Homo sapiens: one gene and its partner. The protein of the gene in region 1 purifies or fractionates together with the protein of each later gene. This does not show direct contact. Each region holds a gene or a part of one and is shown on either strand. Other genes may lie near its edges.

What was found. Proteins that work in one complex are often made in the same cells at the same time.
Region 2: the proteins of ALPL (region 1) and SPCS2 purify together in Homo sapiens (affinity purification with mass spectrometry; 2 studies listed by BioGRID and IntAct, with this or other methods). This does not show direct contact.

The regions. Positions count from the first base shown.
Region 1 is NC_000001.11:21,512,394-21,519,422, reverse strand, and holds part of ALPL (alkaline phosphatase, tissue-nonspecific isozyme isoform 1 preproprotein), read right to left. Parts: intron 1-7,029. UniProt on the Homo sapiens protein: Alkaline phosphatase that metabolizes various phosphate compounds and plays a key role in skeletal mineralization and adaptive thermogenesis.
Region 2 is NC_000011.10:74,973,249-74,979,545, forward strand, and holds the end of SPCS2 (signal peptidase complex subunit 2), read left to right. Parts: intron 1-3,608; coding exon 3,609-3,795; 3' UTR 3,796-5,785; downstream 5,786-6,297. UniProt on the Homo sapiens protein: Component of the signal peptidase complex (SPC) which catalyzes the cleavage of N-terminal signal sequences from nascent proteins as they are translocated into the lumen of the endoplasmic reticulum.

The DNA.
Region 1 (7,029 bases):
TTTCCACGGGCAAAGACGTATCGCACTCATCAATGAGAAATGATCATGGTAAGCTGAGAGAAAGACGCAGAGGCCGCGGGCCCCGCACTGAGCCTGCGGTGGAGGAAAGCAGGAGGAACTAAGCTAGACTGTACCAGGGCCCACCCCAGGTGTGGGGTAGGAACCTTTTATGAGGCACAGAGCTGTGCCCATGTTCAGTCCCAAGGGAGAGGCAGGTTTCTGGGCCTCATCACTGCCTAGGCTTAAAGTAAGAGTGACGAGAAAGAGGCCAGTTTCAGCCTTTGTGAGCGAAGTGCTTTGGCGAGGCAGGGGTCTCCCTCAGCAAGGCTGGGCTACACTACAGCCCCTTTCCCTGTGTCCCACTGGATCTGAGCTGAGTAGCGCTTGTTGCATTACAAAGAAAAAGACTTGTGCAGGAAATAGGGTAGAGGACAGGCTCTCTAGTCAGATGCAACTTGATCTGTGGCAAAACCAAGTGGGGTCTTTCAGCTTCAGTGTGTTAGCATCTCAACACCTGGGATGGAGTTTGTGGGCGGGTCGGTTTTGCCACACTGTAGGGCCCAGGTGGTCCCACTGTCACAGTGAAGCCAAGTTCTAGCCCAAGTCTGGCAGAGCAGTCAGGCAGCTAGTTTTCAGGGGAGAAAAAAGGGGTGGGACGGGGGACTTCAGTGGCCTATTACGGAGCCCTCTCCCCAAACCAAATTCATAGCTGAGAGCTTGGGGATGGTACAGTTACAATTTAAAGTAATTGTCTAAATTCTGTATTTGGGTATTAATGTTTAAATGGTAATCTGACAACAGTTTATAAAGTGATGTTCTGAATACCATAAAAAAAAGAAAGAGCTCAGTTTCAGGTCCTCCTGGAAAGAGTTAGGCTGGCCCCTCCCCATCCTTTGTAATAATATCCATCGTAGTAATAAGAGTTATTTATTCGGGGTTTGACAGATATGAATTCAAATCGTAGCTCCGACACTTACCAGCTGGGCAAACCCAGGCTAATTACTCTGAGTCATTCTCCTCACCTGAAAAATGGGCTGGTATAAGGATTAAATGTGTAAATGTATACAAAGCATTTCGCAGAGTGGCTTGGTGCGTAACAAGTGGTCCGTCAGTGTCGAGAACTCTTATTACTACTATGGATGTTATTACAAAGGGTGGAGAGGGGCAGGCCTAACTCTTTCCAGGAGGACCTGAAACCAGCCTCTTTCTCGTCACTCTTACTTTAAGCCTAGACAGTGATGAGGCCCAGAAACCTGCCTCTCCCTTGGGACTGAACACGGGCACAGCTCTGTGCCTCATAAAAGGTTCCTACCCCACACCTGGGGTGGGCCCTGGTACAGTCTAGCTTAGTTCCTCCAAAGACAAGGAAAAGAAGACCAAGGAGCACCGTGACACTGAACTGGGTGCCACCTGGGCCTATCCCTTCCCTACCCCCACCCACACAATGACCAAATCTAATCTGGTTCTGGGATGTCCTTTTATCTTGTGTGCCAACTCTATATTAGTTGCTAATGGCTGTCTGGAGCACTGTACTTAGAAGGAATCTGGGAAGGAAAGCAAGCAGTGGTTGACTAGTGATGTCTGATGTGGGTGCAGGGCAGGAGAGAGGAAGGAGACATGCTGGCTATTCGCCATCCACAAATCGAAAAATCCTAAGGCCTTGCCTCATTCAAATAAACCATGCGTGGTAGGGAGGGTAGCCAGAAGCTAAGAGAGGGAAAGGGACTTGGCGAAGGTCACACAGCTTGAAATGGCAGGGCTGGGATTCAAACCCAGGCCCCTCTGGGTTTCTCAGGATGCTTCCTTCTAGGCTTGTCATTTCCTATGAGGGGGTGAACAGGCTAAGAAACACTGTCTGGGAGAACAGACGCTGGTGCCCCACCAGGTGTGTCTATGTTCTGTCTCCTCCCCCTGGGGCCTCCCACCCCCATGTCATTTGCAAACACTCACTGAAAAACAAATGTGTACCACAAGGTGCCCTGAGAGCTCTTCTCCAAACATGCAAATTTGAATCCAGATGCCAATCTGATTGGGCAACCCTGGATTTGAGTCTCACCTGCACTTTCCAAACTTTGAGAACATTACTCAATCTCTCTGAGCTTCCGTTTCCTTGTTTGCAAAATGGAAAGAATTATGAGCTCAATACAATAAGGTCATTCAAAGTGATTAGCTCAGTTTCTGACACAGAGTAAGCCCTTAAATGTTCATTACAGACTGTCCCCAACTTACACTTAAGATTTTTTTCTTTACGATGATGCAAAAGCTACAGTGTTCAGTGGAAACCACACCTCGAGTACCCAACCAGCCATTCTGTTTTTCACATTCAATACAGTATAGCCAAGAAATTGACATGAGATAGTCAACACTTTATTATGAAATAGGCCTCGTGTTAGATGATTTGCCCAACTATAGGCTAATGTAACTGTTCTGAACACATTTAGGGTAAGTCAGGCTAAGCTACCATGTTTGACAGGTTAGGTGTTATAACCATTTTCTACTTATGATATTTTTCAACTTACAATTCCAGGACAAAAACCTTTGGTAAATCAAGGAGCATCTGTATAAGGATTAGGTCATGGGGAAAAGCAAAAAAACAGCATTTTCACACACAAAAAAATCACTTAGGTGATTAAGGGCTTGGACAAGCTGTTGAGAGGAAACCTGCTTATCTCTGATATCTTGATAGGCTAACAGACCTAGAATATGAATTTCTATATTGGATGGTTTTAAGATAAATAGGGAACTGACTCTTCTAGGAAGATGGGTTATGTCATTTGCATTACGGAGAAAGCAGTAGCCTTGAATGGATGGATGGGTCACCGCAGGGAACAAACATGTCTACTTCTCACTTCCCAGCTGGGGGAGTTTGTGTTTCCGTTTCCTCATCTGTAATGTGGGGATAATAGCACCTGCCACCCAGCGCTGCTGTAGGACCAAATAGTAATTACAGGCAAGGCACTGAGCACCATGCCTAGTACGTGCATGTTGGGCTTATAGTCTATGGACTTTTAGTTAGTAGTGGCATGGCAGGGACCAGCGGAATGAGGCAGAGAAAGAAGAGGAGCTATAGAAGGGCTCAGAAGGAGTGGAGGAGGGGAAATGGGCCTCAGATGAGACATTTTCTCACCAGAATGGCGGCAGACGGGTCAGTTAGTAACTCCTGTATGCTGAGAGACAGGTAAGTCAAGGTGGAGACAGGTGGAGACAGGTGGAGGGGGATGAGATCCTCCAAAAGGCCAGGCTGGCCAGATGCAGTGGCTCACACCTGTAATCCCAGCACTTTGGGAGGATGAGGTGGGAGGATCACTTGAGCCCAGGAGTTCGAAACCAGCCTGGGCAACATTGCAAGACCTCATCTCTACAAGTAATAAAAAAAATTAGCGGGGCGTGGTGGCGAATGCCTGTGGTCCCAGCTACTTGAGAGGTTGGGGTAGGAGGATTGCTTGAGTCCAGGAAGTCAAGGCTGCACTGTAGTGAGCCATGATCGTGCCACTGCACTCCAGCCTGGGCAACAGAGCCACTAGACCCTGTCTCAAAAAACAACAACAACAAAACAAACAAACAAAACAGACAAACAAACAAAAAAACAACAAGCCTGAGACACTTCAGTGACAGCCAGCAAGAGGCCTGAGAACGTCAGCCTGAGAGCTAAGTGGTACCCACCCTGTGGCTTTACTGACCTAGTAAAGGTGCACTAAAGAAGGCAAGAGGTTGACCCAACAAAAAGTCACTGGGGCCAGGTGTGGTGGCCCATGCCTGTAATCCCAGCACTTTGCGAGGCCGAGGAGGGTGGATCACCTGAGGTCAGGAGTTCAAGATCAACCTGGCCGACATGGCAAAACCATGTCTCTACTAAAAATACAAAAATTAGCTGGGTGTGGTGGCATGTGCCTGTAATCCCAGCTACATGGGAGGCTGAGGCAGGAGAATCTCTGGAACCCGGGAGGCGGAGGTTGTAGTGAGCCGAGATCACGCCACTGCACTCCAGCCTGGGGAACAGAGCGATACTCAGTCTAAAAAAGGGTCACCTGGTAGATCTTTTTAAAGGGTGCACTTGTGGGCCAGGCACAATGGTTCATGCCTATAATCTCAGCACTTTCAGGGGCCAAGGTGGGTAGACTTCTTGAACCCAGGCTGAGCAACATAGCAGGGCCCCATCTCTGCAAAAATAAAATAAAGGTCACACTTCTGGTTTTTCCAGTAAAAGCAATTTGCTTCAGCCACCTAAAAACTTTTTTAAAGAACATAAAATATTTGCTGAGCTCTGCCCAGCAGTTTGCAGACCTGGCCAGGTAAAGTTCATGCACCTGAATGACAAACTGAGCTCTGGAAGGATGAAGAAGCATCTCTGAAACAAGCTGGAGTGGAGGAGGAGGGGGTGGCTTAGAAAGTCTGGAGGGTCAGGGCCTCACTACAGGGTCTCCACGGCCTTATTTCCAGAAATGACCTTCCAGCCTGTCCTCTCCTCCCTTCCCTGGGTCAAAGCAGAGAGGCATAGAGACCTAGGGGAGGAGTAATCCTAAGGTGTCTGCCCTCTGAGCCTCAGTCTCCTTAACTGCAAAATGCTGGAGAGTAGGGGGTAGGTGAGTATCAAAGGTAATGTGCGAAAGTGCCTGGTACCCAATGGTGCTCACAAAATGCCACTTCCCACACAGGGCACATTTCTGAAGTCGTCTGCAGGTGTAAGGACCAGGGGATGTGAGGTTAGTATCAGCAATCGACAATCAATCAGTCTCCCTTGTCCATCTCATAACCCCTGGAGCAGTTGATTCGTGGAGACCTAGAATCTCACATCACAGCAGCTGCCTCCAGAGCCCCCCGCATGTAACCATCAGGCTTCACAGCCTCCTGTGCTACCCTCTGGCTCAGACATGGCGATTCTAAGATGCTTGCTGCAGCCACCATGGTACCTGCCTGTCATCACCAGGCCCTGGCTCCCAGCAAAGGGGGTGGAACAGAGAGCTGTGGGTTCAGAGTGCAAGATCGTGTTTCCTGTCTGAGAAGTGGTTATGCACTGATGCACAGGGCTGTTAGGGAGCACAGGGTGAAGTGGCGCACCAATGCACAGGGCTCTTGGGGAGCAAGGGGTAAGGTGGAAGCTGTCAAGGGAGTCTCTTCCCTGCAGGGGCTGTGCAATCTTTAGAATGAAGTACCCAGCGATGCCTGTCCCCAGCTAGACCCTGGGCTCAACTCGCTGAGCCTTGACAGGTAGATGCTCTATCACCCCCAAACCTCCAGAGCCCTCAGACTCTTCCTGAGGACCACCGAAGCAGGAAAAAAGCTCCTTCGCCTAGCTGACATGTTTTGTAGATGTTGCCAGGCTATGGAAGAGGGGCTAGTGTCCACGTGTCCCATATTCTCACCCTGAGCCCCCTGAGGGCTGGCCCAAGCCCCACACAATCATTCAAGTGGAATTTGAGCCCCTCTTACATGGCCTCACTGCATCTAGCCCAGAAACCGCAAGCTCAGAAGGTAGGTAGGTAATGTCAGGGAGGCAGGTGGGCAAGTGTGAGGCAGTGGGGCGTGGTGGAGACTGTGGTAAAGTGGATGGAGCAGCTGCTAATCAGCTCCAGCCACTGTGGCCAGGCAGGGACATAGCCCCATATGGCCACATCTTCTGATCTTTCAAGAGAAGCCAGAAATCCTTATCTTTATATAAAATGAAATTGCCTGGTTTAAAAACACCAGCAACTAAATAAAAGTTGTTTAATCACCGCAAAAGTCAACAATCCCCCACCCCCTGCAGCCTTAGGAAGGCAGTTTGTGATGGATCTCCCATAACCCAGCACACAGCAGGCTATAAATATCTGAGGACCAGTTGAATACATTAGACCCATTCCAAGTCTTAGGGAAGTCTCATCTCTCCACTCCTACTCCTCAGATATATTGGTTTACAGATGAAGAATCTGAGACTCAGACAGGGGAAGTGACTTGCCCAAGGTCACAGAGGTATTCAAGGACTTCAGCTCAGCTCTCCTGAGCTTAATATCTTTTTCCACCAACCCACATCATCTGCATCCTCCCTTAAACAATGATTTTCAAAAAACAGATATGCTAAGAATATACTGTAGAAATGAAACACACCAAATTCAGGAGAGTGGTTGCCTTTGGAAAGATCATGTAGCTTAAGGCCAGGAGACTGAATTCCCAGTCCACTCTGCCCTAAGCAATTGTGTGACCCTGGGCAAGCCTCTTCTCCTCTCTGGGCCTCAGTCTCCCTGGTGCACCAAGAGCCCAGTTGACCGAGCCAGCTTCTAAAGGCCTTCCAACTGAAATTCTGGGGATCTATGTCTCCTCTCTGGCCAGTACTCTGTGGCCTCAGATGAATACAAAATAGTAATAATAATAATAATAATAATAATAGAGAGGGCGAGTCCACACCAGCCAGGAAAGAACACTACGACTTTTTGTGAAACCTGACTCCTGGTTACTGGAATTCAGAAAGAACGATGGTAATACTTGAGCAGCTTAACCACCATCCTACAATTAAACAAAAGCACATCTGGTTTAACTTCGTCCTCATCTCCTCCCTAACCCCCTACTCTCATCTCAAATTTTACCCCTTAATTTGAGAAGTCAAATTCAATGCAAACAATTGATTTCATGCCACAGTGAGGCTGAGAATTTAAGCATGGAAAACTTTAAGCATAGAGTTTTTCTGGGAGCAATTAACGAAGTGTTGGCGGGGGGGTTGGGAGCTGGTACAAGGAGGCAGAAAAATACGGAGACTATGTTCTTCAGACACTGAGCATCATATCTTGATGTTGGGGGCCTCCTATGAGCTTGACACTCAGAGAGGTAAAGTGACTTGCCTCAGGTCACACAGCTGGCGATTGGAATCCAAGACACCAGCCCCCAAACCAGTGTTTTCCCTGCTGTGTAGGCTTTTGTGACCTAAACGTGGACTTCCCTCAGGCCCTCAGGATCACCTGGTAGGGATAAAGTTAACTGCTTTTGAAATTGCTCCACAGGAAATATGAATGTCTTAATAACATCAATGCTGGTTCAGCCCAAAGTTGGAAAACCATT
Region 2 (6,297 bases), on another chromosome or scaffold:
TGCCACTTCTATGCCTCTTCTTTGCGGTTAAACACACACCTAGTCTTTTGAAGATAATTCCTGGCTCATTGGCACTCTCTCTAACATTTGTCCTTTCTTAAGTCTTGGTGATTGCCATATTCACATAGATGGTTATTCTAGTAACTTGGCCTCTCAGTTTTACTTCCTTTCTTCCCATTATCCTGTTTTCTATCATGCCTTAAACATTTATTTTCATAGACATACCCTAGTAGACCTTGCAATTAATAAGAACAAATTACCTGCAATAATTTCAGTTTTAAGTATCCCACCCTGACCATTGCTTCCTGTTACTCTCATTTATTTCCTTCTAGTTCTCTTGTCACGGCATTTCTTCTGCCCCAGTGGCATCTGTAACCCACTTCACTTCCTCCTTACCTGGCTTAGATTCCATGACACTTCTGTAGTCCAGTTACTCTCTCCCTGTCCTGGAGGATCTTTCATATCTTCCCTGTCCTCAAACCTGCTAGGCCTCCTCCCCCATCTTTACTCTCGGTTTTTTGTTGTTGGGAAGATAGAAGCCATCATAAGTCTACCATCACTACTCACCTACTTCCAAGTACCTATCTAAGGCCTTCCCTCCCTTGGGTCTATGGGATTCTATCTCTTCTCTCTTACTTGATGTTTTCCTCTCTGCTGGATCATTCCTTCTGACATACAAATATACTGTAATTTCTCCCAACTGAAAAAAAAAAAGGTTTTCTTTCCCCTTCTGCTTCTCACACAGTCTCCTCATTTCTCTGCTCTCCTTTTCTTCTTGTGCTATCACCTGGATCTGCTCTTGTCTCCTTTACTTGACCTGTCAGCAGCATTTGACATAGCTAATTACCCTTACTTTGTAATACTTTTTTTTTTTAACTAGGCTTCTCAGATACCACACACTTCTAATTTTCTTCTTACCTTAATGTTTGTTCCTCAGTCTCCTTTGTGATTCTTCATCTCCCATTTTTTTACATTTGAAATGCCACCAGGGCTTGTTCTGGAACCTCTTCTCTATGATGAAGATCTCTAAATTTGTATTTTCATCCTTGACCTCTTCTCTGAACTCTAAATATATTCTGGCATTCTTTTTGATGTTGGATCCTAATAGGCATCTCAAAGTCAACAGGTCCAAAACCTAACTCATCTCTCACTCATCCAAACCTGCCCTTCCCTCAGTTTTTCCCACTTCAATAAATGGCAGTGCTGTCCTTACAGAGCTCTGGAGTCATTTTGACTCCTCTTTCTCAGTCCTTCTTTAGTCTGTCAGCAAATCCTGTTAGCTCCACCATCTAAATGTATTGTCCAACCATTTACCATCTCCACAGCTACCATCCTCTCTCACATATGTTACTGTAATGATGTTCTTTTTTTGTTTTGTTTTTTTGAGACAGAGTCTCACACTTTCATCTAGGCTGGAGTGCAGTGGCGCGATCTCGGCTCGCTGCAAGCTCCGCCTCCTGGGTTCACACCATTCTCCTGCCTCAGCCTCCCAAATAGCTGGGACTACAGGCACCAGCCACCACGTCTGGCTAATTTTTTGTATTTTTAGTAGAGACGGGGTTTCACCATGTTAGCCAGGATGGTCTGGATCTCCTGACCTCGTGATCTGCCCGCCTTGGCCTCCCAAAGTGCTGGGATTATAGGTATGAGCCACGGCACCCGGCCCACTGTAATGATGTTGTAATGGACTTCTGCAGCCCTCTCTCCACCCATAGTCTATTCCCAGGACAGCAAGCAAAGTGATCCTTTTGAAACATAAGTCAGATCAACTCAGTCTTTTGCTCAAAACTCTCTCAGAGAAATTGCCAAAATCCTAAGGATGGCTTAGAAGTCCATACATGTCTATTCTCTGCACTCCACACACCGATGCAAACATACCCTCATCTCCTTGGCTCTCATCCTCTCCCACTTCATTCTGTTCACATTAGGCCCCTTTCTGTTCTTAAGACATTTCAGGGATGTTCTTGCCTCAGGGCCTTTGCACTTGCTGTTCCTTTTTCCTGGAACATTCTTTTTCCAGATAGCTTATTCTCTTACCTTTCTTGTCTCTGCTCAGACATCTGCTTAGTGAAGGCTTTTCTGCCCATCTATTTAAGAGAACATCTTCTTTTTTTATACTGTCTGTTCCCTCACACACACTAAAATGAAAGTCCCAAAAGGCAGACATTTATATTATGTTCACTGCCGTATATCCTTACCATCTAAAACTGCCTGTCACATATAGGTAGGCTCAGTAAATATCTGAATTAATGAACATTTCTAAAATGTATCAGGTCACAACTCATCAGATCATGGACTGCCACCAAAGCCATGTAACTGCCAATAAAACTGGGCACAGAAGTCTAAAAATTACTGTGATATCAATTAGCAGTTGGTCAGAACTTGAGAAAATATTTTGAGGTGTTGAAAATAGTTAAAGGAACTTCACTACTAGCTCTCCAAGTTGGGAGTTACTGCCTAGACCAACAATTATTGAGGAGCTGTGACCTTTTGAGCACTAGTTAATGATAGACACTGTTTTAGTCATGACAGTAATCCTGAAAGCAGGTGGAAGTTCTCCCATTTTAAACATGCAGAAATAGAGCCTCAAGAAACTGCTTCATTTAAAGATAATACTAGCTTGACAATCCACTGAATATGTCCTAATAAATGGAAACAGGGTGGGGGATGTCAGCCTACCAGTAATTGGTGTCATTAAACCCTCTTGAATGAATGGACATAGTAATGGCCTTCAGGGTACCTTGAAGTATAGCTAAAGGAATCTCTGGAGTTCATTTAGTAAAGCAGTTGGCATCCCTGGCCTGGGATCAGAGTAAAACCTGGAGCTAGATTGATTACAGAGTGCAAGGACTAGGCACCCCGGGATTGGAGAGCATCCTTGAAAGCAAGGGTTCTTCATTTATTTATAAAAATTTGATTGCCTACTAGAAGCCCAGCTAAGAGTATGAAGCAATTAAGACAACAATCTTTGCTCAAGAATCTCCTAGACAATCCTGATTCAAGCACCAGAAACAAAGGGAAAAGAAACCTCCCAGTCTAGTGAAGAAAGTAGTACACATCATGTCAACAGATAGGTAATTTTGTTGATACCATAAGAGCCTATTATTAGGCCTGGCATATGACAGGAGGTCAGTATTTGAGTTGAGTATTGATTGATGGTACTGTGGAAGACAGAGGAAACACATCTGACCCAGATTGGTAGGCTTTCCCAGAAAAGTTTATGCCCAAGTATAGTGTTAACAAATAAGAACTTCTCAGGTGAGATAGGGGAGAAGAGTCTGCGAGGAAAACCTGTCTAGCATGGCAAATACGAAGTCCAGAGATGAGAGAAGATGGTCCACGTGGTTTAAAAGTCTACAACAAGGTAAAGGAGGTACACAGTAATTAAAGTAGGAAAGATATGTCAACACCTAAGAATCAGAACTAGTATCTTGAAAAGTTAGGAGCCCTGGGGTTTTGTTTTTGCTTTTGCTTTTAAAGGATGTGTTTGTTCCCTGTATCACCGTGCCCAGCTTACTCCTTTTCTTCGGAAACACTTGGTGCCGTATTGTTACTGGTTGAATCTCTGTGTTTGGTTTTTAATTTGTTATCTTTGCCCCCATGCTTAGGTTTGATGACAAATACACCTTGAAGCTGACCTTCATCAGTGGGAGAACAAAGCAGCAGCGGGAAGCCGAGTTCACAAAGTCCATTGCTAAGTTTTTTGACCACAGTGGGACACTGGTCATGGATGCATATGAGCCTGAAATATCCAGGCTCCATGACAGTCTTGCCATAGAAAGAAAAATAAAGTAGCCAATTCTAAAAGTAGCCCTCTTTCTCCTGGATCTTGCTGAATTAGTGGCTTGGGGGGTGGGGGAGATAAAAAGAACTTAAAATGGGTAAAGTAAGAAATGTTAAAAAGTCCCTGTTTTGTCCTGAAATTTTAGTCTATTCTGGGTAAATAGGATTTTCTGACACAGATATGAGAAGTTGTAGCTCTGATGTCTAGCTGTAGTCTCCTTGATCTGCTGATTGCATTATTTTAATTTGCTTTTCTGGGAAAGCAGTTTTGCTAAAAGCTGTACAGACTTTTTCTTTTGTACCTAGCAGTACTTTATATAGTATAGCTTTGGGCCATGTAGCATTTTAAGACTCAATTTTAAAAAATTATTAATCTGTTGCTGACTCTTAATTCCTATTTCAATATGTGTTTCCTTGAAGAATTCAGGATACAACTTCTTGTGTATGACAGCTTTCCTTCACACACTATTTTTGTGGGTGTGTATATATCTGATTTGGGAAGAATTTAAAAAACACATAGCTTTTTAATTTGTTTGAAACAGACTTTCTGCCTGTTACATTTTTGCTTTTAACCAATTAAAGAAGCCAATGGCATTTTAGTTTTATATTGTGTTTTCCACTAGTATATCCCTGTTGATTTGTTTGTGCCTTTTATTAACTGCCATTTTCTAAAATTTTTTTCAATAAAAGGAAGGAAGATGTGAAAAAAATGGAGTCATAGTTTTGATGGAGAGAACAGAGAAACAAGTGTTAACATCTTTCTACTATAGGTTTTTTTCATTTTTAGGCTATTTTACTTGTCAAAGGCCCCTGAGAACCTGTAGCTAAGGAACTCTTAGCTTTCCAGTGATAATAACAATAATAACAACATTCTGTACTTACTTTGTGCCAGAAATGCTCCAAGTACTTTACATGTGTTAATAATGCTCACAGCAATCCTAAGAGGCAGGTGCTGTTATTATCCCCATTTTACACATGAGGAAACTGAGATACAAAAGTTAAATAATTGTCACACAGCTAGTGATAGAACTGGGATTCAAACCTGGGGAGTCCGGCTTCAGAGTTTGTGGTCCTGCAGAGACAAAACAGCCGCTTTTCCAGTATTTTCCCAGTATGGTCAGAGAAGACCTGGGTGCTTGCCAAGATCCTTTGACCTTTAGGAATATTTCCCTACAGCCTTACAAAACATCAATTTTGGCTGAGCCTAGTACCCAACACTATATTCAGTTTGTAAGAAATTACCATTATCACATTTCCTGTTTGTCTTGGAGAGGTTGTCCTATCTCGCACCACATGGTAGGGAATTGTGAACAACACTGGACAGAAAGTTAAAGCCTTGGATTCTGTACTCTTCATTCCTGTAAACCTTGGGTAAGTTTCGGAATTCTCTGTGAGCTTCTTAAAGTTTTTGAAAGCATGTAACCGGATAAGTGTATTTTTACAATGGAGGAGTTACAGTCATCTTGGTATTTGTGGGAGATTGGTTCCAGGATCCCCAAGCATACCAAAATCCAAGGATGCTCAAGTCCCTTATATAAAATGGTATAGCATTTGCATATAACCTACACACATCCTCCCATATACTTTTAATCACCTCTGGATTACCTATAATACCTAATATAATGTAAATGCTATGTAAATAGTTATACTGCATTGGTTTTTTAATTTATATTTTTTGTTATTTTTTAAAATATATTTTTAATCCATGGTTGGTTAAATCTGTAGATATAGAGGGCCAACTGTACTGTTAGACACAAGGGTCTCGAGGCTTGCAGATAGAGACTGAATAACCCTCTCCATGATGATCCCTTAGAGTTCCCCCACTGTGCCTTTTTCTTTACATGTGCATGCAAACATGTGTCTCCACATACATTTTTTTTAACAAAAATTGAATTATGTTGATATATGTCCTGTAATTTGTGTTTTAAACTTAATATATCTTAGGCATTTTCCCTGTGTGTGTGTATAATGCAGCTATTAAAAATGAGTCTGAGGCCAGGCATGGTGGCTCACGCCTTTAATCCTAGCACTTTGGGAGACCAAGACAGGTAAATCACCTGAGGTCAGGAGTTCGAGACCACCTTGGCCAACATGGTGAAACCACATCTCTACTAAAAATACAAAAAATTGGCTGGGCATGGTGGCAGATGCCTGTAATCCCAGCTACTTGGGAGGCTGAGGCAGGAGAATGGCTTGAACTGGGAGGCGGAGGTTGCAGTGAGCCGAGATCACACCCTGCACTCCAGCCTGGGCAACAAGAGCAAAACTCCGTCTCAAAAAAGAAAAAAAAAAGAGTCTGACATACATATATATAAAAGAAACTGTTCTAAAATACCAGAAGTGCAAAGGCAGGGGACCAATTGCAACAAGTAGCTGGGGTGATAACCCCTATATATATATACACATAGGTCAGTCTCATTTTTAATAGCTACATAATATTCCATAGTATAAGTGATTTTACTTTAATACCCTATTGATGATAATTTTTCCCCAGTTTTTTTCACTATTCCAGGA